Linked DNA regions of Homo sapiens: regions 1, 2 and 4 are each linked to region 3. Evidence: fine-mapped expression QTL. A gene starts in region 3. Each other region holds a variant in brackets. All regions are shown on one strand. Distances are from middle to middle.

What was found. PIP is the estimated chance that this variant, and not a neighbour inherited with it, causes the effect.
Region 1: its variant is fine-mapped to the expression of PLAGL1 in thyroid (GTEx, PIP 0.92).
Region 2: its variant is fine-mapped to the expression of PLAGL1 in whole blood (INTERVAL, PIP above 0.99).
Region 4: its variant is fine-mapped to the expression of PLAGL1 in whole blood (TwinsUK, PIP 0.90).

What each region holds. Positions count from the first base shown.
Region 1 is chr6:143,694,806-143,703,064 of GRCh38, reverse strand. All of the region lies in intron 1 of PHACTR2 (phosphatase and actin regulator 2), which reads right to left. Among named protein-coding and RNA genes, the nearest start is that of PHACTR2, 21 kb to the right of the region's middle. The variant A/G (reference allele first, on the strand shown) is at 4,748.
Region 2 is chr6:144,032,748-144,041,006 of GRCh38, reverse strand. It overlaps a transcript of PLAGL1 not described here and the pseudogene LOC100131041. Among named protein-coding and RNA genes, the nearest start is that of PLAGL1, 29 kb to the right of the region's middle. RefSeq lists an enhancer at 4,397-4,446. The variant G/T (reference allele first, on the strand shown) is at 4,388.
Region 3 is chr6:144,004,246-144,012,504 of GRCh38, reverse strand. PLAGL1 (PLAG1 like zinc finger 1) reads left to right here and starts at 4,246. Exons shown (of 8, transcript NM_001317162.2): 1 at 4,246-4,415. HYMAI (hydatidiform mole associated and imprinted) reads left to right here and starts at 4,246. Exons shown (of 1, transcript NR_002768.3): 1 at 4,246-7,589. RefSeq lists silencers at 4,010-4,059, 4,250-4,439, 4,635-4,817.
Region 4 is chr6:144,303,951-144,312,209 of GRCh38, reverse strand. The region is part of intron 2 of UTRN (utrophin); the gene reads right to left. Among named protein-coding and RNA genes, the nearest start is that of UTRN, 23 kb to the right of the region's middle. RefSeq lists an enhancer at 6,002-6,121. The variant A/G (reference allele first, on the strand shown) is at 4,678.

The DNA.
Region 1 (8,259 bases), 310 kb after region 3:
AGTGCTGGGATTACAGGTGTTAGCCACTGTGCCCTGGCCTGTTTTATCACTTCTTGAACTTTAACTTAGTGGAATTACACAATATAATCTTTTGTATTTCTTTCACTGAATGTCTGTGAGATTCATCTATAAACTTTTTTCCCTTACTTGGTTTCTGGGAAAGCTAATCTACTTCTCTACCATCTTTTGATGTTGCCCTGAAGCCATGATAAATTAGAATTTCACCGAAGCAAGATTAAAGGTAGAGCAGTAGTTTATTTTCTGTAAAAAAAAAAAAAAAAAAAAAAAAAAGTTGTATATATATTCTTACAATGCATATTAGAGCACTCAGTAGTTCTGAGCAATGTAATTTATAAAAGCACTGGGTTACAGTGTTATCCACCATGGGACAACTATCATGTTTAGTACTTTCACATTATGCTATATATTAAAGCCCTATATATAAGGAAACTGGGAGCCAGGAAGGCTATCTGGCTTCCCAAATTGTTAACTAGTGAAAGAGATAAGAGTCTAGGTCACCTGATTCCTGATCCAGGCTTATTTCCCACTATACCAGGCTGTCTCCATTGGCATATGATAGCTAAACTCATGGTGAACCAGCAACACTCCTAGTAGCTCTAAAATAGCAGTAAGACTATTTGTAAAAAACAAAAAAGCAGGCTGGGTGCCGTGGCTCACGCCTGTAATCCCAGCACTTTGGGAGGACGAGGCGGGCAGATCACAAGGTCAAGAGATCGAGACCATCCCGGCCAACATGGTGAAACCTCATCTCTACTAAAAATACAAAAAATTAGCTAGCTGTCGTGGTGCGCACCTGTAGTCCCAGCTACTCTGGAGGCTGAGGCAGGAGGATCGCTTGAACCAGGAAGGCGGAGGTTGCAGTGAGCCAAGATCATGCCACTGCAATCCCTTCTCAAAAAAAAAAAAAAAAAAAAAAGCAAAGAAGACATTGCACAATCAGGACAAGCAATAAATCTGTGTTATTGTTCTGGGTTTTGACCACCCAACTGGGATGGTAAACTGTAAGCCAAGAAGAGAGTTGGAGCCTAGTTCCAACTCTGCTACTTAATCAGCCCTGTGACCTTGTGCTAGGATCCCAATTTTTCATTGCTGAAATTAGGAGACTAGGTTAAATGATCTCTAGGCTCCTTTCCAACTTTAAAAATTCTATGACTTCATATTGCTTTGTGCTGAGTGTATCAGTCTTGTAGGTCACATTAAGACCTATTCTATTACTTGATATTTTATTATGCTAAAAAAAGGACCTGTTCTAAGTGCTTTATCAATACTGCCTCTTTCATCATTACTACAACCCTGCGAAGTAGTTGCTATTAGTATTCCCATTTTATAGATGAGGAAGTTGAGGCTGAGAGACCAAGCAACTAGCAAGATCCCACAGCTGGTAAGCAGGATTTAAACTCAGGGAGTTTACCTCCCAAGTATTCCCTGTACAAAAATGGGGAGGAGGGTAGTGGGTGGGAGTGGATTTTTATTTTAAGATAAGGCAAGAGATAAACCCTAATGAGTAGTAACTCAATTCAACTCCCAGCCACTTATTGGGCTAATCCAAGGAGTTAGGGTAGGTACTGTTTTGCTGTCTAAAACAATGCCCAGTGTCATCACGGTTAATTTCACGCTGGCGGCAGGCAGTGTACTCTATACTTTATACTGACTAAAGTAATTTGATTGTACAGAATCCTTATTTATCATAATATTAATTTTAGAAGTTTGATACTATCAATTTTTAAACTTGTTTTTTTAACAGAGGCAGACATTATTTTTAAACTCCCAGAGGGAAAAGCTACTAAAGACTTCCATCTGCCTGCAAGCACTGACAGAGAATTCCAGAGTTTAAACTTGTGGCCAACAGGCCTGCAGAACGAATATGTTTGTGCAGCTGCATGACATCCTGATTCACTGACATGAACAACATCCCCTAGACTTGCTACAGGATATTTAACAGATTAAATAAAGTCGCTCTTATTTGGGGTTTACAGAAATTCTGATTGAGTAGGCAAAGGGCCACTTTGCTAATGGAAAAATCAATTTTAATGTAAATAAAAGCATTTTACGTTTTGAATGCCACTGTTATCGCTACAAGGGAAGGGTTGTCTCTATGAACAGATAGGATGACTGCTTAGGAATAGCAAGATGTCGCTACAGAGAGGAAAAACGTGACAGGAATCAACCAACAACCTATCTTGTTCCCCGTAGATGTTAGTCATATACAACAACTCCCGGAGTCTGAAGTGGAGCAGGTCATGGTGTGTAGAGTGTGTGCTGTGTTTGTGAAAAGGAAGAAAAAGCTGATATATCCCCAATGGACAATCTGCCAAGTGAAAGAATTTCAACTCATCCATGATAGGATAATGATCACCCTGTTCATGCTGGGAATGTGCGTCAGCACAGAACTTTAGGGGAGAAGCTGGTAGACCTTATATATAATTTGTGAAATAAAATATACTGAAATATCACAGTTCTCCTCTCGCCCCCCCTCCCCACTGCCCCCAATCAATGGAGTCTCGTTCTGTCACCCAGATGGAGTGCAGTGGTGAGATCTCAGCTCACTGCAACCTCCGGCTCCTGGGTCCAAGTGATTCTCTTGCCTCAGCCTCCCGAGTAGCTGGGATTACAGGTGCATGCCACCATGCCTTGCTAATTTCTGTATTTTTAGTAGAGACGCGGTTTCACCATGTTGGCCAGGCCAGTCTCAAACTCCTAAGCTCAAGTGATCCGCCCACCTCAGCCTCCCAAAGTGTTTGGTTTACAGGCATGAGCCACCGCGCCTGGCTGAAATATCACAGTTTTTAAGTAAGGGGCTAAATTTTGTTTCAGACAAAATTATGAAAAAATTCCCATTGAGGATGAATGTAACACAAATATTATTAAAATAACACATTAAATCTAGACCAATATATTTAAGTCGAAAGGCTGGTGGATAAATAAAAGCCCAGAGAATATATATAATGTGACTAACGTTCTCTCTATGTCCAAGAGCCTCCTGGCAGTCATACAGGGTCCCCAAGGCCGGTATCTGTGGAGAGACCGTGGCCACATGTAGTATCCCGGACAATCTCCCCAAGGCAGACATGAAACCTGCAGGCATGTACTATGGAAAACAGGATGCTGGGAGATCCATCCCATGGAGAAGAATTTATGTCAATTAGTCATACGGAGTCCCCAAGGCTCCCAGATTTACGTCCTTATAGCTCAGTTAAGAGATGACTGCAGCAACCCAGGCATCTGAACTTGGAGAGAAGGAGCGAAAAGGGACTGGAAATGATGGATGATCTGAGGGACACTGAGGAGAAAGAAGAGAGGAGTCTGAGGAACTGCCTGAGAACTCCATGGCCTGAACCTCTACAAGGGTATGGCTGGATGTCAAGAAGAGAGAAGATTTGGAGGAGAGACCTTTAGCTTGTATTCAGGCACCATGAACTTCAGGTGCTGGCAGAACATTCAAGGGAAGATGTCCAACGGACAGTCAGAAATGCATTACTGGCACTCTAGCAAGAAGCTGGAGTTGAAGTTATTTGGTGGAGTCTTCTAAACAAAAGCAGCTGTTGAGGACCAGGGGTAAACTCCTAGAGAATGATTACATTTAGGAGCAAGTGGGCTTTGCACAATAAAGAACGTTGAACTCCTTTGGCATTGAGAATGAACAAGTAAAGAAAAAGGTTTTGTTTGCTGTTTGTTTTAAGTTCATAAAGTGTGAAGGACACTCAAGCAGGTTCATGGGCTGAGGAGAAGGAGCCCTGGGTGTCGGGGTGTTGAAGATGCAAGAAAGAAGAAGGGCTGCAGAGCTGCACCAGCCAGGATGTCAGACCAGCCACACGGGGACTGCATGGGGACTGAATTCCTTCAGGTCATAGCGAGATTTGGGGTGGAGAGGGAGAGTCTGAACTTCATCCAGTGAATATGAGGAAATGACCAGGAAGTCAGGAGATGACAGCACCAAAGAAATGTGAAGGAAAACTCAGCAGACGGCACCTACCTCAGATGAGGGCATGCACAAGACTGGACGCAAAATGAGCAGGGAATAGCACTGGGGAGTTGATGCAATGTCAGCGCCCCCTGTGATAGGAGAGGTAAAGGACAACAGAGCCACCATTGAAGAGAATTACCAGGGCAACAGTGTTGCCAAGGAGACCCAGGGTTCGGACAATCCAAGGGAGAGGAGGAAGGAGATATCTGCAAAAATAATGAGGCTGTAGAAAAGTGTGTTCACTGTGGAACGGAAACATTCATGCACAATTAACTGAGCAGCTATTATAGAGGAAGGGCTACAATGGTAAGCAAAAACAGATCAGATCTCTGCCCTTAGGAGGCTTGCAGGCCATGAGAGAGGCTGACATTAGTCAAACAACCATCCACCCAAACGTAGACCTGCAGTGTGTAGTGAGTAGGAAATGTGGGGGACCCCAGAGGCTCACACGGTGGTACTGTGGCATTAGTTCCCACGGCAGACATAGCACAAGATGGCCTCCAAATTATGAGTTAAAATTCAGGGTAAAATTGTTTGAGGGCTACAGAGGTTTAGTCTAGTTTCATAGCATTGCCTAAAAGGTAGAAATATCCTATGCAAATTAAACAGGAAACCATTTAAAAGCCACTGAAAAGCAAAAGATTAACATTCCTTGGTTTGTACACCTAATTCTCTTGAGAGAAACAATTCCACTAGTTGCTTTTTAAAAAAATAATTTTATAATAATGATGCCTTTAGCATTGATTTTATACTTTTTCTAAC[A/G]TAGTTATTGAGGATGCCCCACTTGCGAGATGTTCTATTTTGGTTTCTTTCTTTAAAATGACAGGTGTGTTAAGCAAGCATTCCAGAGAATGAGTTGCTCCAGCAGGATTTGGATAAAACACACACAGAAAGCCTCTGAATCCAATTAGAGCACCATCAAACCAACTAGCTTATTCCAAAATCCTTTTCTAATATAATTTTTATTTAGATTTTCAATACTGGTCTGAAGAAACATTGAACATGTTCTAGAATGATGGGAAAAAGCCCGTAACAGAACCTCAGAATAGCCAGTTGCAATTCACCAATGTTTTCAGAAACCATAAAAATGATTTTTAATTGTTGTTGTTATTAAGTGAGTAGGTTAAAAAAAAGACTACCTCTCTGAGAAGCAAGAAAAAATAATACTTCTCACCACTAGATTAGGAGTCCCATGAGGACAGGGAGCAAGTTGATTTTATTCCTGGTGGTGCCCCTATACTGTACTTAGGCCACAAAAAGGTCCCTAAAAATATTTACAAAAAGAATAAGTCATGGGTAAATGTGGGGCAATAATTTACAAGGCCTAGGCTATGATTTATTTTAGCAGGTCTTTAGATTTTTCACAGAGGAAATTGTTTCCAACAGTGCCTTCCTGTAGAATTCCAAATATTTTGAAAGATAATATAACAAACACTAATGTTTGAAATTGGGAAAATATCAGAGCCAGCAGGAAGGATGATTAACACTCATAAGAATGGTACAGACATTGCTGACACAGTTTTCAGGTAAGCAAACACTTAATTGCTCTTTACAAGGTAATTGAAAGACAATTCATCAAAGACAAATAATTGAAAAACAGCTGGAATAATTTATATGTGAAATTGTCTTTTAAGAAGTTTCTATTTTCACCCGGTGATGAGTGGTGAAAATTAATTTCTTCAAGAGCACTCTCTTTGTTAACATTTCCTTCTTTCTCATCTCAGATTTTTCTTCAGTCTTAACCTTCTTTCTCCTAATTGGGGAAGCCAGAAAAGCAATTTTGTTCCATGGCAAAGAAACAAGAAAATAAGTTACCTAACTAAATTGGAACTAAATCCAAACTGCTTTTGTTTTTTCCATTCTCTTTAGGCATCACACACGAGAATGTGAATCTCTTAGAAAACAGTGGAACAATATAGAAAACTATAAAACCATTTTAATCTGAAATTAAATTCTTTGATAATATAGCATTATGACAGATGTTCAGTTATGTGGCAATATTTTAGGCTTTCAATTAACTAAATATATCGGAACTACAAGGTAGAACTACCTTGCATAATAGCCCAGTGTTGTGGTGGCAAACATCTGACTCTACAATGTAACATGTTCAATGACGAGGAATCATTCTTTAAGACTGGCAGCCAGCAACAAGTTTTTATTCCAATTTAAACAGAACACACCACCTCTCCTATCTCACCTTTCCACTGTGAAGCAAATATCTCCTGTTAGAACAGTACCCTAAGGGGAGCAAACACAAGTGGAGAGAGGGCTGACACTTAGGTATTTCCACACTAAAGCTTCCAGAGAAGAAAATGGTTTGTTTTGTTTAACTCTTTAGCTATGTGTCACCCTGATATGACTTTGCGTATGCTTAAAAAATAGGAAATAGCCATTTAAATATAAACACAGACCTGTGAGTACTGCAAAGGAAAAACATGGGCTTCCAGTGCCAGAAAGATCTGAATGTAATAATCTGTTCCTCCCCATCCTAGCTGGTAACCTTAGGTCTGTAATTCAACCTTTCAGAGTCCCTTCCTCATCTGTAGAATGGGGTAATACAATTCATGATTTGGGTTGTGGCTACTGTTAATAGAGATAATACATGTAAGCAAGTGGAAAAAGGCTGATAAGAGGTTTTGTGGGGAATAAAAATGGAGAGTGGGTTATTTATGATTTGGAGCAATTGGGGCAGCAAAATTTCTTGGAAAAATATTTTCCTGGTCTTCTAGAGGTCTCCAGGAAAACAAAAATGCCCCCTGAAATAAATAAACTCCTGTATACCCACCCAAAACAGTTACCTGCATTCTCCGTTGGTCTCAAGATAATTGCTGGGAGCTGCTAAAACCAACTAAGACTCGAGGGAAATCCCCACTACTCTATAGCAGAAATGCCCTGGATTAAGGAAAGAAACTAAGCAAGAAGGTTGACATCATATACAAGAATGAGAGAGGAGCTAAGAGTTGGACGTGGCTCTATTTCCTACCAGCTGGGAAATTGCGAATTTTTTATTTTTATGCTTGCACCTGCAAAAAATAAAAAATTTTAAAAATCAAACCAACAAACATAAAACTATTTTATAGAAAAGGCCAGTTGCTTACTTGATTAATACAACGCTTAGTAAATCAAGGTGAAACTGATTAGGCGCTATTTAGTCAGATACAAATTGTTGTTCCTTTTGGTTTTTAAAAATCCTGCACCGTATAAGATGTGTTGCTACGGCTGCTAAACACAGGAAGTTGCATTTTACTGTTGTTTCCACATGTGCCTAATGTCACAATCTAAAGAGAAAAGAAAGATCTGTTTTATGATTCCATTAACTTCAGATATTTTAAGTAAAGACCACCTATAAATTCAATGTAGATGACAAAGTCCCAGAGGATTCTTGATTATGAGACTCATGTTATCCACTGGACTGGCTAAGAAATCATTATCAAAGGGCCCTCTGTTTATTCTGCCCTTCCCTTTTAAAGATCTAGCAGGAACCTTATGCTCATTCCCTTTGCCTCTAGGACTGCAGTGCCCAGCAATGAAAATAAACCTGGACTGGCACTGCAAAACCACAAGCAATTAATTAAATCCTTATCAGTTATTTCCACTGTCTATAGTAAGACGCCATTTTTATGCCTTAGGGTATTGAATGTTGAATCTGAAATAGGGTCTTGGATCCAAGTGTTCTGTTCTCAACTTGGAAGAACACCAATATTCTATGACTTTTAACCTTCCTCAGATTGAGTGCTCAGCATATTCTAATCTGCAAGATGCCTTAAAAGTCTACAATGACAGAGTCACAACTAAAGGGTGTAGAGGTTTGGCTAAGAGCTTCTGCATGCCCTGATCCCCATGCCCAATCCATCATAATCTGGATTCGGATCAGGGCCTAAGAGAAGTGAGTCTTGTTTGCAGCCTTTGTAGAATGCTTGTATCTCGCCATCTCAAGGCAATTCCTGGTCCAAGAGATGCCTATAAAATTAAATAATTTCTGAGGTTTAAGGAGAGTTTTAATCATTTTACAAAAGGACCTAGGGTCACTAGATTCTGATGCACCCAATTCTTATTTGTGTGCTTAACCAGCTTGAGGGACCTTTTTCAATAAAATAAGGAATTTTGAACCTAGAGGAGGTGGGTGTGCTGTTGAAGCATTATCTTCACGTTGACAAGATAAGCAGTCCACCAAAACTGACTGCACCAGTTAAAAGTTTCCTGTGAGATTTACGAATTGATAGGAAGACATCATTGGAAGCCTGCTAGGTGGTTTACAATGCATATGGGCTAGA
Region 2 (8,259 bases), 29 kb before region 3:
GATCCCTTTCTAACTACTATATTCTCTCTTTTTCCCACCTAAGGGTTTTAAAGATTATTCAAGGTGGGCTATCTTTACTTCTTCATCTCCTATTACTTTGCTTTTTTGTTTTGTTTTTGTTTTTGTTTTTGAGACAGAGTCTCAGTCTGTCACCTGAGCTGGAGTGCAGTGGTCTGATCTCAGCTCACTGCATGCAACCTCCACCTCCCAGGTTCAAGCAATTCTCCTGTCTCAGCCTCCCAAGTAGCTGGGATTACAGGCATGTGCTACCACACAAATTTTTTTGTATTTTTAGTGGAGACAGGTTTTGCCATGTTGGCCAGACTGGTCTCGAACTCCTGGCCTCAAGTGATCTGACTGCCTTGGCCTCCCAAAGTGCTGGGATTACAGGTGTGAGCCACTGTGCCTGGCTACCTCCTAGTAGCTTTTATTTTTTTTTAGACATTGTTTTCTTTATTTTTATATTTCTTTATTTTTTGAGACTGAGTCTCCCTCTGTCACCCAGGCTAGAGTGTAGTGGTGTGATCTTGGCTCACCACAACCTCTGCCTCTCAGGTTCAAATGATTTGCCTGCCTCAGCCTCCTGAGTAGCTGGGATTACAAGCATGTGCCACCATGCCCAGCTAATTTTTGTTTTTTTAATAGAGCCAGGATTTCACTATGTTGCCCAGGCTAGTCTTGAACTCCCGGGTTTAAGCGATCCACCCGCCTCAGCCTCCCAAAGTGCTGGGATTACAGGTGTGAGCCACCGTGCCTGGCCTAGACCTTGTTTTAAGTAAGATATTAACTAGCTAAAACATTACTAAAATATTTTCTATTTTGAGTGCTTTGATTATGTATTTAGTACTTACCATGAACTTTGGAGTTCCCTGTAGGTCCCTCCCTAAGCCCTTCCTTCTTTTTTTCTCATTAAATGTTATCACTGTGCAGTATTTTTATATTAATCATTTTCTAACCTTGTTCATCATTTTCCCTGACATTTGTATATGTTTAGTTTTGCTTGTTGTTGAATGTTGTACATGGAATTATATGATATAAATTATCTGGAGGCTTGCCTTTTGAACCTAACTATAATTTCATCCATTTTTATTGGCATAAGGATGCCATTATGTGCCACAATGTATTAATTTTCTTGTTGATAGACCTTTTGGCCTTTTGCTACTACAAAGAGATTTGCTGTGAACATTCTTGCAGATATATCTTGGTGTACATATGCATAAATATGTCTAGGATTTATACCCAGGAATGGAATTTCTGTAGCATTTAGTATATACCCCTTTGTATTCACTGACTATTACAAATTATTGATCAAAGTGGTTGTGCTATTTAATACCCCTATCAGAAGTGTAAATCTCTCCTTGTCAACCTTTTCATTTTTGGGGTGTAAAATGGCATGTGATATTTTATTTGATTTTATTTTTGAGACACAGTCTCACTCTGTCACCCAGGCTGAAGTGAAGTGGCACAATCTTGGCTCACTGCAACCTCCACCTCCCAGGTTCAAGCAATTCTCGTGTCTCAGCCTCTTGAGTAGCTGGGATTACAAGCATGTGCCAACATGCCCAGCTAATTTTTGTATTTTTTTGTAGAGATGGGGTTTTGCCATGTTGGCCAGACTGGTTTCAAACTTTGGGCCTCTAATGATCCACCCACTTCTGCCTCCCAAAGTGTTGAGATTACAGGTGTGAGCCACTGCATCTGGCCAGCATGTGATATTTTAAAATTTCATTATCTGATGACTAATGAAGTCAACCATCTTTTCATTGGTTTCTGAGCCATTTCTGTTTATTCTTCAGTAAAACACCTGTTTATATGCCTTGCCCATTTTTCTTTTGGATTGTCTCTTCCTTATTTATTTGTAATCACTTTTTATAATTCTGGAATAGCAAACCTATCTCCCAAATTTGTGGCTTGTGTTTTTACTTTATGTCTTTCCCCTATCCCTGAGCTACTTCTGATATTTATTTTCTATATTACTGGCTCTCAGCAATTTTTATGATGTGTCTCTTGGCATGGTTTTCTTTTCTTTTTGTAAAAAACAACTTACTGAGATATAGTTCACATATCATACAATTCACCCATTTAAAATGGCTTTTAGTATATTCATAGAGTTGTGCATTTTCCACTATAATCAAGTTTATGACTTTTTCATTTAGTCATCATCCCCACTCCTTTCATCACTTTTAGCCCTAGGCAGTCACTAATCTACTTTCTGTCTCTCTAGATTTGGCTACTCTGGGCATTTCATATAAATGGGATCATATAATATGTGGTTCTTTGTGATTGATTTCTTCACACAGTATAATGTTTTCAAAGGCCACCCATGTTGTAGCATGTATCAGTACTTCATTTATTTTTATTTCCAAATATATTTCTTTGTTTGGACATGTCATTTTATTTATCCATTCATTGAAAAAAAACTATTCTTTCCCCATTGAATTGTCTTGGCATCCTTGTCAGAAATCTACTGGGTACAGACATATGGGTTTATTTATGGGTGCTTGATTCTATTCATTAATCTATAGCTAGCCTTAATGCCAGTACCTCATTGTCTTGATTACTGTAGCTTTGTAGTAAGTTTTGAAATTAGGGAGGATGGCCCCTTAACTTTGTTCTACTCTTTCAAGATTTTTTGGTAATTCTGGTTCCCTTGAATTTTCATATGAATTTTAGGAACAGCTTGTCAGTTTCTACAATGAAATTAACCAAAATCTTGATAGGGCAACCTTATGTAGTGAAGAAGCCTCACAAGTTCAAACAAACAAACAATAAGTAGATAAGTTTCAGTCGTATTACCGTCTTAACACATGTAGCTTTATTTTTTGTGCTTTGGAGTTTATTAAGATTCATAGATCTGCAGGCTTATCGCTTTCATCAGATGTGTAGCATTTTCAGCCATTATTTTGTCAAATGCTATTACTATCCTCCATCTGAGACTCCAACTACTATCTGTTAGACAACTTGATATTGTTCCCACAGATCTCAGAGACTTTGCTCATTTTTTTCAATTATTTTTCTCTTTGCATAGGTGGGAGTTAGTTCATTTTAGTATTACCATTTATTGGCGACAAGCGCTAACTTTTCTTACATTCTAAGGGGGGAAATTGTAGCCTGAACAATGAATCAAAGCAGTACTAAGTCTCAAGAGTACGTGCTTTTCATTGCAGAACCTTACTGTGTACATTTCTATGTACAATAGCACAACATCAAAAGCAGTAGTTTGGGTTTGGGTTTTTTTGTGAAAGTGACTATTTTGTAAACAAAGACAGTAAATATCTAAGAAAATATAGAAATAAAAAACATAGTTCATAATGTTGATATGCATTGTATTCCTTAAAAGAAATGAAACTGTCACCATCATGATCATTTTTCTTTAAAATATCTTCTAAAACTGCTTTGTTTTTGTTTTTTTTAGAAATGGAGTCTTGCTCTGTCACCCAGGCTCGAGTGCAGTGGCACAATCATATGATAGCTCACTGCAGTCTCGAACTTCTGGGCAAAAGCAATCCTCCCATCTCAGCCTCCTAAGTAGCTGGGACTACAGGTGCACACTGTCACACCCAGCTATTTTTTTTTTTTTTTTTTTTTTTTGGTAGAGATGGGGCTTCACCGTGTTGTCCAGGCTGGTCTGGAATTCCTGGGGTCAAGTTATTGTCCCACGTTGGCCTCCCAAAATATTGGGATTACAGATGTGAGCCACTGTGCCTGGCCTAAAACTGCATTCTGATATGACTTGTCACATGGCTTCTCATCTTTTTAAAACTTCTCTTTTAGGTAGTGATTAGCTCTGTTTTAGAGAGTTGTCTGTCATGGTGTCTTTCTGTTTAAATGGTTCAGTGGTCCTCTGGTCACAGCATAAAATTCAGTCTCAAAAATCAGTGTTGTATCAGGTGGACTCTTGCCTTTACATGTATACTTAATTAAAGCACTAAAATATCACATGCTTTTAGAGACACGCAGGCGTGCTCTGTGACAAGAGGCAAGCAGACTGTGCGAAGGAAAGATTTAAGATACTACCTTTAGTTTTCCTTTCCATGTGCAAATGAAGGTGGTGTAATCACTTTCTGCCTCTCTCCAGGGCATATAATTCATCACAGCAATGTCTGGTCCTTTTATGATTTGTCCAACACCAAGAACAAACCATTAGGGGATGGCCTTCATTTTATGCCAGAGTATTTCAAACCTGTTTAGTCAAATAGTGTCATAATGGGCATTTAGCAGGTCTGCCTTCTTGCTTGTCTTAGAGCAGTTTTCTGGAAGTTGCACAATTTCTGTTCTGTAGTTTCACTTTTTCCATTCTTTCCTCTTTCTTTCGTCCCTGAGTAGTGAAGAAGCCTCACAAGTTAAAACAAACAAAACAAAAAGCTATTCTGAATAAGAAACACAT[G/T]TTCCTAGAGTTGGCCCCTAGATGTCTACCACGCTCTTTCCAGCATGTCACTTGCACCCGGTAGCAGCCCCAGGACTGGAGTCCTGTCACGCGGCAGTAATTGTCCTGTCACAAAGTGCTGAGGGTGTGGAGTTGTGTAGCGGGTCCCCTTGTCTGGGCAGGCTCGGCTGTGGAATTTTTGCCCATTTGGTGTGGAGCATGTGCCCCTTTGGTACTGGGCATGTGGGCTGGCTGTCTTCAGTCACTAAGACTGAAGCATTGCACACTTGCACCACTTCTCTGCACAAAGTCTGTGTATTTCACAGCTGATTTCCTCAGGATTGTGTTATAAGGCTTGTGTTTCCTAAAATGAAACTGGCAAAGATGAAATAGCCTAAATGGACTGTTCTTAGAGTCAGAGGAAGTGGTTGTCATTTCTGGGCATAAAAGACTTCTCCTCAGGCCCCTAAGCATTAGTGAGCATTGGAAGGAGTCATTCTGGAGGCAGAGCATAAAAGTCGGCTTGTAGCTGCCCTCTGGGTCCACCTGGGGTGTCCTTGAAGCACTTTCTTGGGGTTGGAGTCCTGCATTGAGGGTTTCCAGGCTAAGCCACACGTAATCAGATGGCCATCCAGGCACAATAAAACCCAGAAATGCCCCTGCTCCTCCACCTCCTTAAAGAAGTTTCTCACCAGCCCACTCCAGTGATCCCTGAACTGCGTTTCTTTGCCCCACCAGGTGGCTACCCTTGATTTGAGGGCCTCTAGTAGTGCCAGAAATGTTCTTGACATTGTCATTTTTCTCATCAACCATATGAGATCAGTAATGATCTACATTACACATATTAAAAAAATGAGGTATCATATCTAGAGGCAAAAAGAAGAAAAAACAAGAAAATGAGGTAATTTGAGTATTGGGCATTTTGTTCTAGTCTCACCACTCATAGCAACAGGGATTTGACACAAAGCCTCTTGCCCCCTGTGATGGTTAATATTGAATGTCAACTTGATTAGATTGAAGGATGCAAAGCATTGTTCCTGGGCATCTCTGTCAGAGTGTTGCCAAAGACGATTAACATTTGAGTCAGTGGACTGGGTGAGGAGACCCACCCTCAGTCTGGTTGGGCACCATCTAATCAGCTGCCAGCACGGCTAGAATAAAGCAGGCAGGAGAAGATGGGAGGGCAGATTTGCTGAGTCTTCCGGCCTTCATCTTTCTCCCGTGCTAGATGCTTGCTGCCCTTGAACATTAGACTCCAAGTACTTCAGCTTTTGGACTCTTGGACTTACACCAGTGGTTTTCCATGGGCTCTCGGGCCTTTGGCCATAGACTGAAGGCTGCACTGTGAGCTTCCCTATCTTTGAGTTTTTGGTGCTTGGATTGATCTACCACTGGCTTCCTTGCTCCTCAGCTTGCAGGAGGCCTATTGTATGACTTCACCTTGTGATTGTGTGAGTCAATTCTCCTTAATAAACTCCCTCTCATATATACATCTATCCTATTAGTTATGTGTCTCTAGATAACCCTAATATACCCCCAACCCCCTGAAACATTTTAGTATGAAAAACTTTGAAATGTACAGGAAAGTTGAATTTTACAGTGAATGCCCTTATACCCACCACTAGATTCTATCATTAACATTTAACTGTTCTCAATGTATTACATACCCATCCATCAATTTACCTTATTTCCAAGTTAATACTCAAAGATTTTTGTCCAAACCTGAAAGCCTTCAGCTGTAGTCCTAGATCAGGCTCTGGGAGGAGTATTAGTCTACTCAGTGATGTTAAACAAAGCTGATGCTTTGTTCCTGGTTCATCTACTTTGCTTAAAGCTTGCAAAACTCCACAAATCTGAAAATTACTGTCAGCTATGTAAGATGACAGTCCCCTCCAAGGAAGATTTTTTTTTTCAATCTTAAAAGCTAGGGGGAAAACCTGATTTTTAGAATAAAATAAACTCCAAAGTTAAGTTCCATGTTTGATATTGTAGATGAAATTTTGGCTGTCCAAGGTTCATTATTGCATAATGACAATTTGTCGGGGCCTCCCACTTTTCTTTGCTGGAGGACTGAATTAGCTGCACACTTCCTTTCTGGCAGATGATTTATTGAACCCCCTGAATGAGAGGAGGATACAAAGGAAACAAATAAGTGTTTTATTTTCTTGAAGAGAAACAAACACTAAAAGGACTTGAGGCTTACTTAGTTAACAGGAAAACTGGAGAGGCTTAAGTCACTGCCCTTGGGATGAGTGTGCAGTGAGCCCCGTCTTCCAGTCAGCCTGGGGGCTGTGTGCCCAGCAGCCTGAGTCAGCAATCTGGGGCCTAGAGGCTTCAGTCCAGAGGGTGTGGTGTGGTTGGGGGGTTGTCAGCCTGGGCCTTGGCAGCTAGAGAAAGATGGAAGAGCCCTGGAATGAGGCACCCCAGGAGGGAGGCTGGGGTTCGCTAAGCTGGGGCACCCCCTCCTCCAACAACGTGGTTTTACATGTAAACACAGGTCATTCTTTTCAGCCCTGCATGGAGATGTAATTAACAGTATAAAAGACTCCAGGAAAATTGAAGTCTGCAGTTTTATATGTACTACATGGAGACCATGTCTGTAGTGTAGTAAAAGCATCCATGTGTTTTTGATTTTGCATAGTGTATCTTTCATCTCTAGCAATTCTATTTGGGTTCTTCTACATTCTTGAGTGTTTGGAGCACATTTATAATAGCTGCTTTTATGTTCAAGTCTCATTACCTCAGACTTAGAAAAGACCATTTCTTTTGACAGATTTTTTTCTCTAGTTATGGGTCATATCTTCCTGCTTTTTTGCATGCCTGATAATTTTTTGATGTGAAGGTAGACCTTGTGATTTTACATTGTTTTATGCTGGATTTTGTTTTATTCCTTTAAATAGTGTTGGACTTTGTTCTGGCATGTAGTTAAGTTACCTGATCAGTTCTAAACTTGGACATCTCTTTAGCTAAATATCCCAGTCCACTGTTTACACTTCTGGCTTTCCACATAACTACAGGACACATTTCACTAAGCTTTCTACTAGTATATAACAAAGATCATCCTTACTGCAGTTTCTAGTAATGTGTTCCTCATTTCCTTCTGAACTCTCACTGGTACCACCTTTCCTGTCTGTATTTCAGTTTGCTGAAGACAATCTAGGTTTTTCCATCATGTTTCTCAGAATTCTTCCAGCTTCTACCCACTCCCCAATTCCAAGGCTTTCCACATTTTTAGATATTTGTTACAACAGCACACCACTTCCAGGCAGCAAAGTTCATATTAGTTTTCTATTGCTGCCCTGACAAATTACTACAAACTTAGTGGCTTAAACCTGGTATTTATTATGCCCTAGGTCTGTAGGTAAAAAGTCCAAGCTGACCCTGCAGTAGCTCTGACATCGTCTCTCACCATTCTTTGTATATTCCAGGCTTTAGCAATTACAGGCAGTAGTCCTCATGTCACTCACATATCTGCGCACTTCTTGTGGTATGACCTTTACCTAGCATGCTCTTCCCATTTTGTTTATTTGCTGATGTCCTGTTTTCTAAAATTCATCTAATGAATAATTTCTTCTAGAAACTTGGGCTCTACTACTGAGTTCAGCTAAGTGACCTAAATCTGTGTGTCCATAATAGCATGTGGTCCTTCATCATCACTTATCATGCCATATAGAATTATCTATCACATGTCTATTGCCCCGATATAGTGTCCCTCTTAATCTCTTACCTCTCAGGGTTTACTTAGTAATTGCCTGGAACATAGTAGCAACCAAAGAATGCTTAGAATTGAACTAGGTAGGCTGGGCATGGTGGTTCATGCCTGTAATCCCAGCACACTGGATCACTTGAGGTCAGGAGTTTGACCAGCCTGGCCAACATGGTGAAACCCTGTC
Region 3 (8,259 bases):
AGCACTTTGGGAGACTGAGACAGGCGGATCACCTGAGGTCAGGAGTTTGAGACCAGCCTGGCTAACATGGCGAACTTCCCCCCAACCCAGCACCCCCATACCAGCCTCTACTAAAAATACAAAAATTAGCCGGTTGTGATGGTGCACGCCTATAATCCCAGCTACTCAGGAGGCTGAGACAGGAGAATTGCTTGAACCCGGGAGGCAGGTTGCGGTGAGCCAAGATCATGCCACTGTACTCCAGCTTGGGTGACAGAGCGAGACTCTGTCTCAAAAACAAAACAAAACACTAAATCACCCAAAGGAAAGAAAGCAACAAAAAACTTACATGCTGCAACCAAAGAAGAAAAAAGTACAACCTTATAATGTAAAATTTGAGAATTGATAGCAAAAACAAAGAGAACAGAAGATTCTATGGAGGCGTGCTTTGTCTCCAGATGAACCTATGTCTGCCCAGCCCTCCACCCACCGCTGCAAGACATGTTGAGGAAAAAGATGATCAGACCAAATCCTAAGAATTCTCACAAACGTCCCCCAATGTGGAAAGGCAGGGCACACCTGTGAGATGTTGAGGAACCTTTGCATACCACTGTTGGATCTTGCCAGAGGCAGGAAAGTTTCCCACTTTCTGGGATACTGTGCTGAACTGAGCAAATGAACTGAAACTCTGAGGCATGGGATGTTCCCTTGGCTAGCTTGAAGTCCAGCTGCCAGAGGACTTAAAGGAATCTCAGATGTGAAGGTTGAGTTCCTCCAGCAAGCTTTATACTCTGTCTGAGCTGAATTCCACACATCCCCTTTTCCCCCACCTCTCCTTGTCCGAAAAACCTTGGATCACAGAACAAGTAGATAGAAACAACATTCAGCCCTGAAAAAGCAGCGTATTCAGATATATAATATACATGGGACATTAGAAAAGAACATAATCTATAAATTGGAAGATCATACTGTATGCTGGGGGGAAAAATTGATCTAGAATAACTGACACAGAGGCATAGCCCAGATAAGAATACTAAAGGGTATATTAATGTTAAAGAATTCTTCAGGTATCCAAGCAGAAAAATCAAGCCACCTCCAAGGGGAAAATTACATGGGATTAAGATCTTTCCACAGAAATCTTTGAAGCATTTCTCTAATGACCAGTAATGATGAGCTTTTTTCATATGTTTGTTGGCCACATAAATGTCTTCTTTTGAGAAGTGTCTGTTCATATCCTTTGCCCACTTTTTGATGGAGTTGTTTTTTTCTTATAAATTTGTTTAAGTGCTTTGTAGATTCTGGATATTAGCCCTTTGTCAGATGGATAATTGCAAAAATTTTCTCCCATTCTGTAGGTTGCCTGTTCAGTCTGATGATAGTTTCTTTTGGTGTGCAGAAGCTCTTTAGTTTAATTAGATCCCAATTGTCAATTTTGGCTTTTGTTGCCATTGCTTTTGGTGTTTTAGTTATGAACTCTGCCCATGCCTATGTCCTGAATGGTATTGCCTAGGTTTTCTTCTAGGCTTTTTATGGTTTTAGGTCTGATGTTTTAAGTCTTTAGTCCATCTTGAGTTAATTTTTGTATAAGGTGTAACGAAGCGGTCCAGTTTCAGTTTTCTGCATATGGCTAACCAGTTTTTCCCAACACCATTTATTAACTAGGGAATCTTTTACCTATTGCTTGTTTTTGTCAGGTTTGTCACAGATCAGATGGTTGTAGATGTGTGGTGTTATTTCTGAGGACTCTGTTCTGTTCCATTGGTCCATATATCTGTTTTGGTACCAGTACCATGCAGTTTTGGTTACTGTAGCCTTGTAGTGTAGTTTGAAGTCAGGTAGTGTAATGCCTCCAGCTTTGTTCTTTTTGCTTAGGATTGTCTTGGCTATACGGGCTCTTTTTTGGTTCCATATGAAATTTAAAGTAGTTTCTTCTAATTCTGTGAAGAAAGTCAATGGTAGCTTGATGGGGATAGCATTGAATCTATAAATTACTTTGGGCAGTATGGCAATTTTCATGATAATTGATTCTTCCAATCCATGAGCATGGAATGTTTTTCCATTTGTTTGTGTCCTCTCTGATTTCCTTAAGCAGTGGTTTGTAGTTCTCCTTGAAGAGGTCCTTCACATCTCTTGTAAGTTGTATTCCTAGGTATTTTATTCTCTTTGTCGCCATTGTGAATCAGAGTTCACTCATGTGTTGGCTCTCTTATTTGTCTACTATTGGGGTATAGGAATGCTTGTGATTTTTGCACATTGATTTTGTATCCTGAGACTTTGCTGAAGTTGCTTATCAGGTAACATCTCATGCCAGTTAGAATGATAATCATTAAAAAGTCAGGAAACAACAGATGCTGGAGAGGATGTGGAGAAATAGGAACGCTTTTACGCTGTTGGTGGGAGTGTAAATTGGTTCAACCATCGTGGAAGACAGTGTGGCAATTCCTCAAGGATCTAGAACCAGAAATACCATTTGACCCAGCAATCTCATTACTGGGTATATACCCAAAGAATTATAAATCATTCTACTGTAAAGACACATGCACACGTATGTTTATTGAAGCACTATTCACAATAGCAAAGACTTGGAATCAACCCAAATGGCCATTGGTGATAGACTGGATTAAGAAAATGTGGCACATATACACCATGGAATACTATGCAGCCATAAAAAAGGATGAGTTCATGTCCTTTGTAGGGACATGGATGAAGCTGGAAACCATCATTCTCAGCAAACTAACACAGGAACAGAAAACTAAACACCGCATGTTCTCATTCATAAGTGGGAGTTGAACAATGAGAACACATGGACTCAGGGAGGGGAACATCACACACTGGGGCCTGTTGGGGAGTGGGGGGCTAGTGGGGTAGGGATAGCATTAGGAGAAATGCCTAATGTAGATGACGGGTTGATGAGTGCAGCAAACCACCATGGCATGTGTATACCTATGTAACAAACCTGCCCGTTCTGCACATGTATCCCAAAACTTAAAGTATAATAAAAAAATAAATAAAGCAATTGCCATCTTGTTCTGTTAGGTTTTGAAGGAAGGTGTGAATTGAAAATATTTACCCAACTCACTTTTTATTTATGTATAGAGAAAAACACCAGATCTTCTCAAACATGGCAGCACTCTATAAACCCTCCTTAGGAATATGACTTGAAAATGAAGGAAGTCCATCAAGAACTAAATAAAAATAAAAATTCAGGGATAGATAAGTTACAGTGAATATCAAATTCATTTAAAGATAGAATTAAGACAACATCTGGAAAAATAAAGTTGCAGAGCAATTGCAAATGTTCTCATTGCTAGGAAGCCGAAAGTAACAGAACTAATGGAAATTGAGAGGCAGGGTTACCCCCTAAAGGTAGGTGGAGGTGTATGATGCTAATTAACCTCATCTTTCAGAGCTATGAGACTTTCTAAACCCGAACATGTAGTGAGCTCCTTACACCTCTCTTAATCTTTTTACGTAATGCTTATAGGCCTTTTAAAAAGCACGTCTTTTAGGGAAGAAAGCAATAGAGATTCCCTTCAGTTTATTTTTCTTAAATTCCAGTAACATGAAAAATTTGAAATTATATGAAGCAGACGTAGTGTGATACCGTAATTAGAAAATTACTTCTGTCTACCCTTTCTGCGTCTTCGTTTCTTCAGCTGTGAGACGGGTATTTCTCCCAGTGTTGCTGTGAGGATTACACGTATTTACCTGCAAAGTGCTTAGGACAGTGCCTGGCTCACGGTCAGTGCTCACGTTTGGGCAGCTGCACTTGGGCGCTGCTGGCACAGGAGGTAAGTTAGTTTGGCCTATTGCAGCGTCCCAGCATCTGTCGCGTTTCTCATGTGTGATTGGGCTCTGGCGGCCCATCCTGGCGGAGACTTCGGCTAGCAGGCCCCGCTGCAGACCCCAGGCCGGCTCGGGTCTACCTGCGCCAGCGCTGTACCTGGGCGACCTTGGCTTTGCCCCCACCGGTGACCCGGCCCGCAGGACGTGTGGGTGCCGCTCAGCTCCCCCCGCCTCGGCCGCCGACCCCCAGCTCCCCGGCGGGGCCTCCTCCTGCCACGTGACGCCCCCGCCAGGGGCCCCAGCGCCCTCCTCGCGGCCGCGCCGTTCCGGCTCCCGAGCCCCGCCTGCGCGCGGCCTCCTCGGCGCAGCCATCCTCTTGGCTGCCGCGGGCGGCAAAGCCCACGGCATCTGCCATTTGTCATTCAGCCCGTCGGTACCGCCCCGAGCCTTGATTTAGACACGGCTGGGGCGTGCTCTGGCCTCACTCTCCGGGCGGGTGCTGGACGGACGGACGGACGGGGCAGCCGTGCTCACAGCTCAGCAGCGCGGGGCCTTGGCGCGCGGGGCGCTTCCCCGGGTCGCCGTCATGGCCGCGGAGGTGGCACGCCCGAGCGGCCTCGCCTGAGCTCCGGGGGTCGTCGCCCCGCAGGGTAGGTGTTTGGGTGCTCGCGGCTGCGGCGGGCGGGCTGGGGGCAGCGGTGGCCGTGCATTGCCGCGCTGCGAGGACGGCGCTGGGTTCGCGGCCGCGAGGAGGGTGTGCCTTTGCCGCGCCGCCTACGTGCGGGTCCGGGCTCCGCGGGGCCGGGTGCGGGACCCCGCAGATCGTCACCCGCAACCCAGGCAGCCCCACCGCGAGTGCCGCCGGACCCCCTGGACGCCGCTGCCAGAGGCGTTCGCGCCTATCTGGTATGAGGTCCACAGACCCGATTCTTACAACCTGGCGCTCTAACCTCGCCAACGGGCCAGGAAAAAAACAGAACAAGGAAAAGAAGAAAAAGTCTGTTCCAAGTAATAATGGGACTAGACAGTAACTGTTTGCACTTTCGTCTCTTATGGAAAATATGATTATTTTGATGCTTTAGTATTACAGACTGTATCAGACATACTCTTAAAAGTATTTAAAAACGTGGGGTCCTAAAAATTTCCTAGATCGGGACAGCTGATAATGCGACTTCTGTTAGTCTCCGCATCCAACTTTCAGGGCGGAATGGGGATTTCTACCTTTTACTGAATATACTCCTGTAATTTTGAATATTTTTTCTCATCAAATGTGTTACTTTCATGTTTTAGGAAACCAATAAAAATCAAAAATAGAAACACCCAGCTTAGGTCCTCCTTCTTCCAGGAATCCTCCTCTAACCCCTCCCTCCCAGGCAGGATCGGAGGCCCCTCCCGGGTGCTTTCTGGGGCCTCACTGAGGTCCTGGTCCCCTAAGTCCTCCCCCGCAGCCCCTCCGCGTATTAACCCACCGGTCTCGCTGGGCTCAGAGATTGCTTACTTAGCACATGGTAAGTGATTAATACTGTTTAATGACCGAGGGAAAAGATAAAATGTTCTCTGATGTTTCACGCTTTTCGCTCTGAAGTTAAATAGTGGTAAATTTATATGCGCTTAGATAAGAACATTTAACAGTTAAGGATCTGGAAAAGTTGACGACGTCCGATGTCCGTGTTTCCTGATCCAGCAGTTGCACGCCTGGGTATTCATCCTTAAGAACAATGTTTTTCAGAATTTGAAGTCCATTTTAGTGGGTCGTAAAGTCATTTAAATGGATGATCAGAATTTGTAAAACACAGACGGAGAATAGAACATCAGTGTCTCTCAGGTCATAGGGGTGTTCGCTTTATGAATCTCTCTCCCCCTCCTCAGTTTCATACATACACAAATGTGTGTCATGATGTAAAACGTCATTCCTTAGTATGAGTCATGGACAAAAAAGTTTGAAAGCCACTGCCCTAGATAAATTTTAATACATGTCCACAAGCAGACGTGTACAAGAAGGTTGACTGTAATGGCAGAAAACTGGATGCCGCCTTCATGCCTACCTGAAGGAGAAAGATAAATTATACACCACTCATAAAAAGGGCACACTGTACAGTGGCCAATGAAGTATTTTTGTGTTTCAACACAAATGCCTTTCAGTGTTGAACCAAAAAAAAAAAAAGTTGCCGGAGAATGCTGTGTGATATCTTCTATGTAAAATTCAGAACCTGGTGGAGCAAAGCTGTTGTTTAGGGATGCATGTATAGGCATTAAAAGTAGTAAAGAAAAAAAGTCAAGCTAATGGTCATCTCCTAGTGGGGAGGAGAGGGTCAGGGGCTCAGAGATGCTGGAAATGCTTTATCGCCTGACCTGTGCAATGGTTACATGGGTGTTTGCTTTGTAACTCTTTGTTAAATGATACACACTGGGTTTGAATGTTACATTTCCCCCCAAATATGTTAAAATATGGGTGTTGCAAACTGAAGAAGCCTGAGTCTAGGGCTCTCCGTCTGTTATTCTTATTTCCTGGCTTCTTTTTAGAAAAAAAAAATCTTGCTCAGGGAGGAGTACCTAGGGAATTTATCAGTAATGTTTTATTTCATAAATTCCATGGTGGACATACCAGTATTCATTAAATTATTCTTTATGTATTCTTATAACTTAATTTATAATATTTCAAAAAGCATTTAGGAGAAAACATCATTTGGTGTGTTTGCTTTCCCAAAAGTCACATTTACATGTTTTGTACACAACTGGAATATTTTATATAGTAATTTTAGCTAAAATCAAATTTTGTTATGAAAAACGAAATACTAAAAAGTATATAAAAATCACAGAACTTTACAGACTTTCAGCGTTTTAAAATGCTAACATATTGTATTTACCTCAATAATTTCTGTTCCTCAGTTCTTTCAGGCCACATTTTTAGTGCTCAATAGCCTCATATGACTTTAATATTTTATTATATTTTATTATGTTATATATTTTACATTATACATTATAGAACAGAATATTTCCATCATTGCAGAAATTTATATTGGAAAACATTCTGGATACAAATATTTGTTATATACTTGCAGATATTAAACTGTAGACATTAATCCTTATGCTTTTTGTCTTAAGATACTCTACTATTAATGAAATGTATTCTGAATATTTTTCTAAGAATTTTTAAGTTTATGTTTTGTCCACATTTTGTTCTTTAATTTACCTGAGACATGTATATATTGAGATGTATATATTTTATGTTATGAGATCAAGCTTAATTAATTTTCAGATTCCCACATGAAAAGGTAATTGTCCCAATATCAGTGATTAGCAGTGCCACTTCTGTCACATACAGTACCCAGATATGTTTGGGCTTATTTCCAGGCTGTTAATCCTGGTTTATTTGTCATTTGAAAATACTGCAGATTTTCATTTACTGCTGCTTTCTATGTAGTATATTGTTCAGTTCTAAGAATTTAAGATTTTTTCATTGTGATATTTTTTCTTCCCCTAAGAGATTTGTAGAAAGTAGTCTAGTTCCAATGTGGAAGGTTTTGTGAGTTATCCTTTTGTTACTGATTTCTAATTTGCACTGTAGTTAGCATACGTGTCAAGGCCAACAATTCTTTGAAATTCGAGAATTGCTTTATGGTTTTAACTGCTCCTTGTATCATCAAGAATAATTTGTACTCACAGACTTTTGAGGCAATGTATGTAGGTGTGTGTATATATATAATATATACACATACACTTTATATATAGATTATATATAATCTCTCTGTAGAGTTTATATAAAAATTAAATATATTTATATAAATGTATATATATATATGAATAAAATCTCCTGTCTCTAAGGTTTATGTTTCATTAATTCAGGAAAGTTTTGTCTTTTATCTCTTTATTTTCACACATTTTTGTCCTATTCTTTAGGAGCTATGATTAGACTTCTGTTAGACTTCCTCACTCTATCACCCACATCTTTTAAGGTAGATTTAATGTATTTAATATATTTTTTATCCATGTTGAATTCTACATATGTTTTTTAGTTCTATAATTTATGTACAACAAAAAAAAGTGTGTAGCTTGGTGAAATTTACATATGTGTATACCTTTGTGATTACTACCCAGATAAACATATAAAACATTTTCATTCCTTCTGCCCCTTCCTATCAATGGAGCCACTCGCTTCCCCCAGTCAACTACTGTCCCGATTTCTATGACCATGTATTATTTTCAAATGTTTTTAAACTTCATATAAACGGAGTCATACAGTTTATTCTTTTGTTCACATTGTATTCATCCATGTTGCATGTATAAGAATTTTTGTTTGTTTTTTATTTTTGCTTTGTATCAAGGGTTGGCAAACTATGGCCTGTGGGCCAATTCCAACCCACTGCATGTTTCTGTTTATAAAATTTTATTGGGCTGTGTTCCATGGCTCCTGTCTATAATTCCAGCCAGTCAAGAGGCTGAGGCAGGAGAATCTCTTGAGCTCAGGAGTTCGAGCTTACAGTGAACTACGAT
Region 4 (8,259 bases), 300 kb before region 3:
TCGTGATCCACCCGTCTCGGCCTCCCAAAGTGCTGGGATTACAGGCATGAGCCACCGCGCCTGGCCCCAAATTGCTTTATATATGTTAATTCACTTACTTTTTACAACACGAGGAGGTTGATGCTATTACTATCTCTACTTTACTCAGGCACAGAGCAGCTAAGCCATTTGTCCAGGTTCACAGAGCTAGCAGGTGGCCATGCTTACACCCACAGCACCTGATACTGTCTGAACCATTCCCTAAAGTATTTCTACAGAAGAGTACTAATAAGATTTTTAAATCCTGCAGGATTTTTCTTATTATTCTTTTCAAATATTGTGTAATCTAATACCATGCCATCCTTGATATCTAACTCATTTTAGAGATAAAAATGCTTACCCTAAATACCATCATATAATCTATATTTCTATAACCCCAACAGCAATATTGCAGGTTAGAATCCAAGTGTGCAGAATATTTGTGAAGATCAGTGTAGATAATACTGAAATGACAGTGATGAGGAAGAAGGTACTAGAACACAGCCCTTCCCGAGCACAGCTCGCACAATTAAGCATTAACAATTAGGTTTTCTGGAGCTTAGAAAGTGATCAGTGTGAGGTCATCTAGTCCATACTCCTTACCTTACAAACAAATCAATTAATTGTGCAGACAGCTTGAGTGACATATTCAAGGTCACACAGCTGGTGATCTGCAGAGCTAAAACTGGAACCTAGTTCCTCTTTGACACTAAGCTAAGCTCTTTTTTTAAATAGGGCATCCAGGTTTTCTAGAATTTAGCAATTAAAGCAGTGATTTTCAAATTGTGTTCCAAAAGACATGAAGGACCCTCAGAAGCCTGGGTTGAGCTACTCACCTGCCAGTCCCACCCCCCAAACTCTGCTGTATAGAAAGCCACATCCTACCTATCAGCAATGCATCGTCACATTCCTAAAATGAGCCTCCACTGGAAGACTTGTTTGCAGAAAGACTTCCAAGGCAAAAATAAAAATCACATAACCAAGTGAAGTATTCGCATCGTTACTTTCCAGAGCCCCATAACCTGGGACCTTTTAGAGTGCTTAGTAATCTGAAGAAAGCTTCTTACGCCAGAATTCTTCCCCCAGGAAGATCCTCATCATTTCACTAAATGGGCATTTTCATGCCAACTAAAAATGTAATATAATCACACAATAAAGGGCAATCTTAGAAGAGGAAAGGCAGTTGGCAACCACGCTGACAAATATCTATACTACACTGACCTCAGTCTGCTCATTTCATGACTGCCTGTTGAAAACAACATCAAGTGATCGATCTGTCGTGAGCATCTGGGAAACACAGTCAAAGGCTGACATGCAGCTAATCAATCGGGACAATAAAGATCAACAAAGATTGAACTGATATTTTTCTCAGGGATTGCACACTTGTTTGTTTTTTGTTTGTTTGTTTGTGTTTGAGACAGCATCTTGCTCTGTTATCCAGGCTGGCGTGCAGTAGCACGATCTCAGCTCAATGCAACCTCTGCCTCCTGGGTTCAAGCGATTCTTGTGCCTCAGCCTCCCCAGTAGTTGGGATTACAGGCACGCCCCCCACCCCCCGCCACGCCCAGTGATCCCTGTCTCCCCACCTCGGCCTCCCAGGTAGCTGGGACCACAGGCATGCACTACCATGCCCAGCCATTTTTTTTTTTTTTTTTTGAGACGGAGTTTCACTCTTGTTACCCAGGCTGGAGTGCAATGGCTCATCTCAGCTCACTGCAACCTCCGCCTCCCAGGTTCAAGCGATTCTCCTGCCTCAGCCTACTGAGTAGCTGGGATTACAGGCATGAGCCACCATGCCTGGTTAATTTTGTATGTTAAGTAGAGACAGGGTTGCTCCATGTTGGCCAGGCTGGTCTCCAACTCCCAACCTCAGGTGATCCGCCTGCCTCAGCCTCCCAAAGTGCTGGGATTACAGGCATGAGCCACTGCACCCAGACCAATTTTTATATCTTTTGTAGAGATGGGGTTTCACTATGTAGCCCAGGCTCACACTTGTGGAAAGCAATGAAAAATGTGATTTGCTTCTGCACACGTGTATTTATTGAGCACATACTATGTGTCAGGCACTGTTCTAGATACTAGTGATTCAACCTAGACAAAATACCTGCATTCTAGTGGAAAAAGACAATCAGCATAATCCAGTAAGTGCTATGGGAAAAAATGAAACAGGATAAAGTGGGTGGAGAGGGCTAATGAGGGAAGGATTTGCTATTTTAATTGACTGGCACAGTAGCTCTCTGAGAGGAGGGAGTTAGCCACAAGGTTATCTGCTAGAAGAGGGCTCAGGCCCTGACCTGGGAGGTGCCTGCCTCATATAATGAGCACAAACTAGTAAGGGGAGATGAAGCCAGGCAGGATAAACAGGGTCCTGTAGATCACTGTAAGGTCTTTCGCGTTTATTACAACTGGAATGGGGAGTCACTGCAGACTTGGAAACCTGAAGCAACATATCCACTTCTGATTTGAAAAGGATCCCTCTACTGTGGGGTTCAGACCAGCCTCCATGGGCCAAGGGAGGAAGCAGAGAGACAAGTAAGGAGGCAATTCCAGAAAAAGCAATGGTCCCCTAGACCAGGACAGTAGCAGTGGAGATCGTAAAATATGACCGGATTCTGTATAAATTCAGTATTAGGAAAATAGAACCAGCAGGATCTGCTGCATTGGATGTGGGTATACGAGAAAGAAAGGACTACAAAGATGACTCCAAAACTGGGGCAATTGGAAGAATCACATTGCCTTTATCTGAGACAAGCAAGACTGTGGGATCAGCTTTGGGGTTTACGGGAGATCAGGAGTTCAGATTTTCAGATCTGAACATAGAAGATGTGAAGTAAACAACTGGAAATGCAAGTATGCAGTTCAGAGGAAGAGGTCTGGGCTAGAGATAGAAATTTGAGCCAGCATTCAGATAGTATTTAAACCAGGATACTGGTGAGATGACAAACGGCAACAGTGGGGACAGAGAGGAGGTCCAAGGACTGGGTCCTGGGCCCTCCAACGTTAAGAGGAAGAATCAGCAAAAGATAATGGGTGGGAAACCAGGAGCGTGTGGGGTGTCCTAGAAGCCAAATGAAGAAAGAGTCATGGAGGAGGGAGTGATCAGCAGTGTTGATGCTATTGAGAGGTGGAATAAGGTAAGGACTGAGAACAGGCTACTGGATTTAGCAACAAGGAGGTCCCTAATAACTTTGACAAGAGCAGTTTTACTGGACTGGTAGGGGGTCTGCCTGATTTGAGTGGTCTTAAGAGGGAATGAAAGGAGACGAACTGCAAATGTTGGTACATACAATCTTTGAGGAGCTCTTTCATAAAGGGGACCAGAGGAATGGCGTGGTAGCTACAGAGACAGGTGGGATCAAAGTAAAGTTTTGCTAGAAGAAAAACAATAGCATGTTTGTAAGCGGATCCACTAAAGGGGAAATCATAGGGATGCAGAAGAGAGAAGGGAGGTGACTTTGAGTAAGTAAAGGAGGATGGGTACAATGTACACGGTTAGGGTGGCCTTGGGTGGGTTCTGGTTGAGGATAGATGTGGTATTGAAGTTTCTGGATTCCTCTTTGGTTTGCTTCAATTTTCTTAGGGCAAGAGTAGGCAAAGTCAGCCGGGCATGGTGGCTCACACCTGTAATCCCAACACTTCGGGAGGCTGAGGTGGATGGATTGCTTGAGCCCAGGAGTTTGAGACCAGCCTGGGCAACATGGTGAAACCTCTTATCTACAAAAAAAAATACAAAAATTAGCCAGGCGTGGTGGCACATGCCTATAGCCCCAGCTACCCGAGGGTGGGAGGATTGCTGGAGCCCAGGAGGCGGAGGTTGCAGTGAGCCATGCTAGTACCGAAAAAATGGGACGCTTAAATTCAGATGACAGAGGGGCTGCCACCATAAACAATGACCTGGTCTAGCCAGAATATACCCACCACACTGGGAGACAAGATCACTAGAAAGAGAACTTAGAGAAATTAAGAGGACAGAGTATTAGAAGGATCATCAATGTTTACACCCAAATCACTAAAACAAGAGTAACTTTTAGAGAGAGTGACAGAGCTAAACTCACTGAGAAATGAGAGTGAGCGGTGGAGGGAGGGAGTGACATCTCACCAATTAGGTTGAGTTGGTGATGCAATCCGATGGCAGGAGATTGCAGCTGGGGAATCTGGTCTGAATGCGGAATGAGGAGCAAAGGGCCATTATCTCTCTCTCCTGTAGTAGGAGAGGGCTGGGAGAAAAGAACCCACACAAAAGGCAGTCACAACAAACATGTCTACACTTTGACAAAGAAATTTCTTTTGATGTCAGAAAAAATAAAGCACTGTGATATCCATTCCACCTGAGCTTGATGAAGCCCAAGTTTCATTAATTAAAAAAAAAAAAAACTGAGGCAGACTGTTAATTAGTAATCTATGTCTGATTATTTGCCACTTTTAGCAACAAAAGGGAAATATTCATCAACAAATAAAAATACATTATATGCAAAACTGGGTCAAACATTATCAGAAATTTTGCCCTTCAAACTTTGTGTCTTCTCAACCTAATTCTAGCAATCAGGTCTTTTGTTTGAGTGGCTTTAAGGCAGTAGAAGTAAAGTAAGGACCAGAATTTGAGTTACAGCAAAAGTGTGAGACCCTCAGTTCGTGCCAGCGTATTGGACTGCCAATCTA[A/G]TTTCAGAAAAAAAGAAACATTATGAAGACATAACCCTATAATATGTCACTCTTCCTCTAACAAGACTTAACTTTTCATTAAGTCATAGGTCTCCTTTGAGAATATAATGAAAACTGTGGACCCTTTTTCTAAGAAAATATGCAGAAACACAAGTGTAAAAACTTCTGCACATATTGCAGGATTTATTGTTAACCTCTTCTCTCCCTCCCCAAACACCCAGTCAGGCTAGGTAGAGTAATATCTGCAAGGGGGCTTCCTATGCCCTTGGGAGATAAATACAGTCAACAACTGCGGCATCAACTAATAATATCTACTAAAAAATATTACAAATCAAAAACCACTTCTTAATTCTTCATCTTCCGCTGCCGTCATCTACCATCCAGATGCTCATTTTAGGGTCAGTCAAAAATATCTCAGAAAATACAAAGATAAATAAAATATGCAACAGTTCTTGATTTTTTTTTTTTTCAACAGAGTCACACTCTGCCACCCAGGCTGGAGTGCAGTGATGTGATATTGACTCACCGCAGCCTCCACCTCCCAGGTTCAAATTATTCCCATGCCTTAGCCTCCTGAGTAGCTGGGACTACAGGTGCGCGACCCCATGCCCAGGTAATTTTTTTTTTTTTTGTATTTTTAGTAGAGGTAGGGTTTCACTATGTTGGCCAGGCTGGTCTTGAACTCCTGACCTCAGGTGATCCGCCCGCCTCGGCCTTTCAAAGTGCTGGGATTCCAGGCATGATCCACCACACCCGGCCTCTTGAATTTTTAACATTATCTTGCAAAGAGCTCAAAAAATGACTCAGGAAAGTACTCAAGACTCCAGCTGCCAGTTTTCAAGGGCAGACCCCAGCCCAAGCCAGTCTCATACATGTAAGAGAAATATATATATTACATATTTTTCCCAGATATCTCCAGGCACCTCAAAACTCAATCTAGAACTTCACTTACTATCCCCTTATGCACTGCCCTCTCCACAAAACCTAGAAAGAAAGGCTTCATTTGCGAGTGTTAAAGTCAAAAACCAGGCTTCTCTCTCCATCCCATCCACCACCCATCATCTGAAGACCACCACCATGTCCTATCAGGTCTGCCTCCTACCTAAAGCTTCTAAACTCTCCCCTCTCCTCCTTCCCAGCTACCTCAATCTCAGTTTTGGCTTCAATACCTCTTATCCTCTAACTGTGACAGCCACCCAAAGGTCCTCCAGAACCCCAGGCTTGCCTCATCCAGCACACACCCCACACCATCCATGCTCCACGTGGCTTCTAGAGCACCACTCAGAAGAGCAAATCTGATCAGATCAGCCCTCTGCTCACAAGCTTTCAGAGGAAGCAAGGCCTTCCCAAACCAGGAGTGAGAGAGAGGAGGCCATCTCAAGTAACCAAAAACACAGAGAAAAGGGAAAATAAAACAGAAAGTATGTAACCTGATATTACAGCTACGGTTTGTGGTGTGTGGTGTGTGCAGGGTGTGAGGTATGTATGTGTCAGGGAAGTAGTTCGGTGAATACTGCTCCTAGAAATTGGAAGCTTTTTTTATTTAATATGTCATATCTTTCAGACATAGAAATAGACAATAATAGGCAAAAGAAAATGGTACAAGGTCCATGACTGCAGTGAATCTCCTATCCAGATCTGCCTTTCAGGCAAGGCAATGCACAAATTCATTCCCCCAGCAGCTGAGGGCTCATAGCTGAGCATCCGTCCAGGAACTGCCCTTGGCCAAGTTACCTTGCCCAGATTTTCACCTCACCTCCTTCCCAGGGTCAGCCAAAAGCCTACTGGTCAAGGCAAAGGTCCCCAGGCTCAACACATTGCCTCAAGTTGGGAAATCTCTGAAGGGCCATCCCAGCACCAGCATTCCCTATGGATCCAATGGTGGCCCTGCTGTAACTCAACTACACTTCAGCTTTTCCCTGGCCCAGTCCTTCTTCCCTCATTTCTTTCATTAACAGGAATTGTTCTCAAGTGCACACAAATCTCTGTCTCAAATCCTACTTCCAAGGAACTGGGCTTAAGACAGTCATCACTCAGTTCACAAATCAGCATTATTTCATATTAATTTAAGATTCTATTTCTATTTTCATTGAGGAATTAAATATTATAGATAAAACTGAAGAACCTCCTCTCTCACTATCTCTAAAGAAATCTAGTGTTTATAATTTCCATAAAAATTTTTGTATTTTGCTATATATTTATAATATGAATACATAAACACTGCAGGGCAATTTCTGCAGGTATATGAGCTTTATATACAGTACCATTCAATACATTGTGCAACCTGATTTTTGTTTGTAGTCAAATTGTTTTTAAGATTTATCTATGCTGACATAATTAGCTCTTTAAAATACAACCTAAATCAAATACGTCAAAACATTACCAGCCTGGCCAACATGGTGAAACCATGTCTCTACAAAACATACAAAAAAAATTAGCTGGGCATGATGGTATATGCCTGTAATCTCAGCTATTCGGGTGGCTGAGGCACAAGAATTGTTTGAACCCAGGAAGGGGAGATTGTAGTGAGCCGAGATCGCGCCATTGCACTCCAGCCTGGGCAACAAGAGTGAAACTCCATTTCAAAAAAAAAAAAAAGTCAAAACATTAACAGCTGATAAATTTCAAATGAGGGCACGAGCATATCTGATATATCATTTCCTGTACATTTTTTTAGATTGAATACTTCAGAATTTTAAAAATGATAAATATATAAATATAAATTTTTTTAATTTTAAAGCCCTTTCAAAGATTCACCATTATGCTTAGGATACAACTCAAACTCCTAAAGATGGCTTATAACACTCTTCTCAGCTTCATTCTCCAGCATCCTGCTTTAGCCATATTGAAAACCTCACAATTCTCACCTCCAAACCTCTTGTCATCAACTCCCTCTGTCTTAACAGCCTCCCCACATCCCCACTCATTCTTTCAGATCTCAGCTTAGATATCCACTCTTCCAAGATGCCTTCCTTGAAGCCCTGGGATGTCAGGTACCACTCCCGTGAGCTCACACAGCAATCTGTGCTGTTTTTACTTTTACAACTGTGTAACTGCCTGTTTAATCTGTTTTCTTAAATTCCTGTGTACCTGCCCTCTCTAGGTGACAGACAGTCGACAACTGGAACTGTGTCTTATTCACCATGCGCCAATCCACAAGCCTAACATGTTGTAGAGGCAAGGCAACAAAGTACTATGCAAAAGTCTCTTACCGGCCAAAGCAAAAACTTGGGTACCACCAAGAGACAACCCAAGAATGCTTGCAAGTGTTTACAAATGAGAGCTTTTGTTTTTTCTTGAAGGTTAAGGGAACCACCATTTCTGAAATATCAGCATATATAGTAGATTTTAGTTATCCACTGAATGTAAAGAAAGATGAACTTACAAACAGTATGACAATAACAGCCTCTTCTTTCTTCTATTCCCAAAACCTCCACAGCAGAGCATCACATTAAGGAAAGCATTTGTTACCTGAATTATTATAATTTCTGAGCATCCCAGCTTTATTAACTGAACTCCAGGGCCCTTCTACCACTTAAGAATTCCCTAAATGTAAGATATTTCTCAACATCTGCTCCTAAT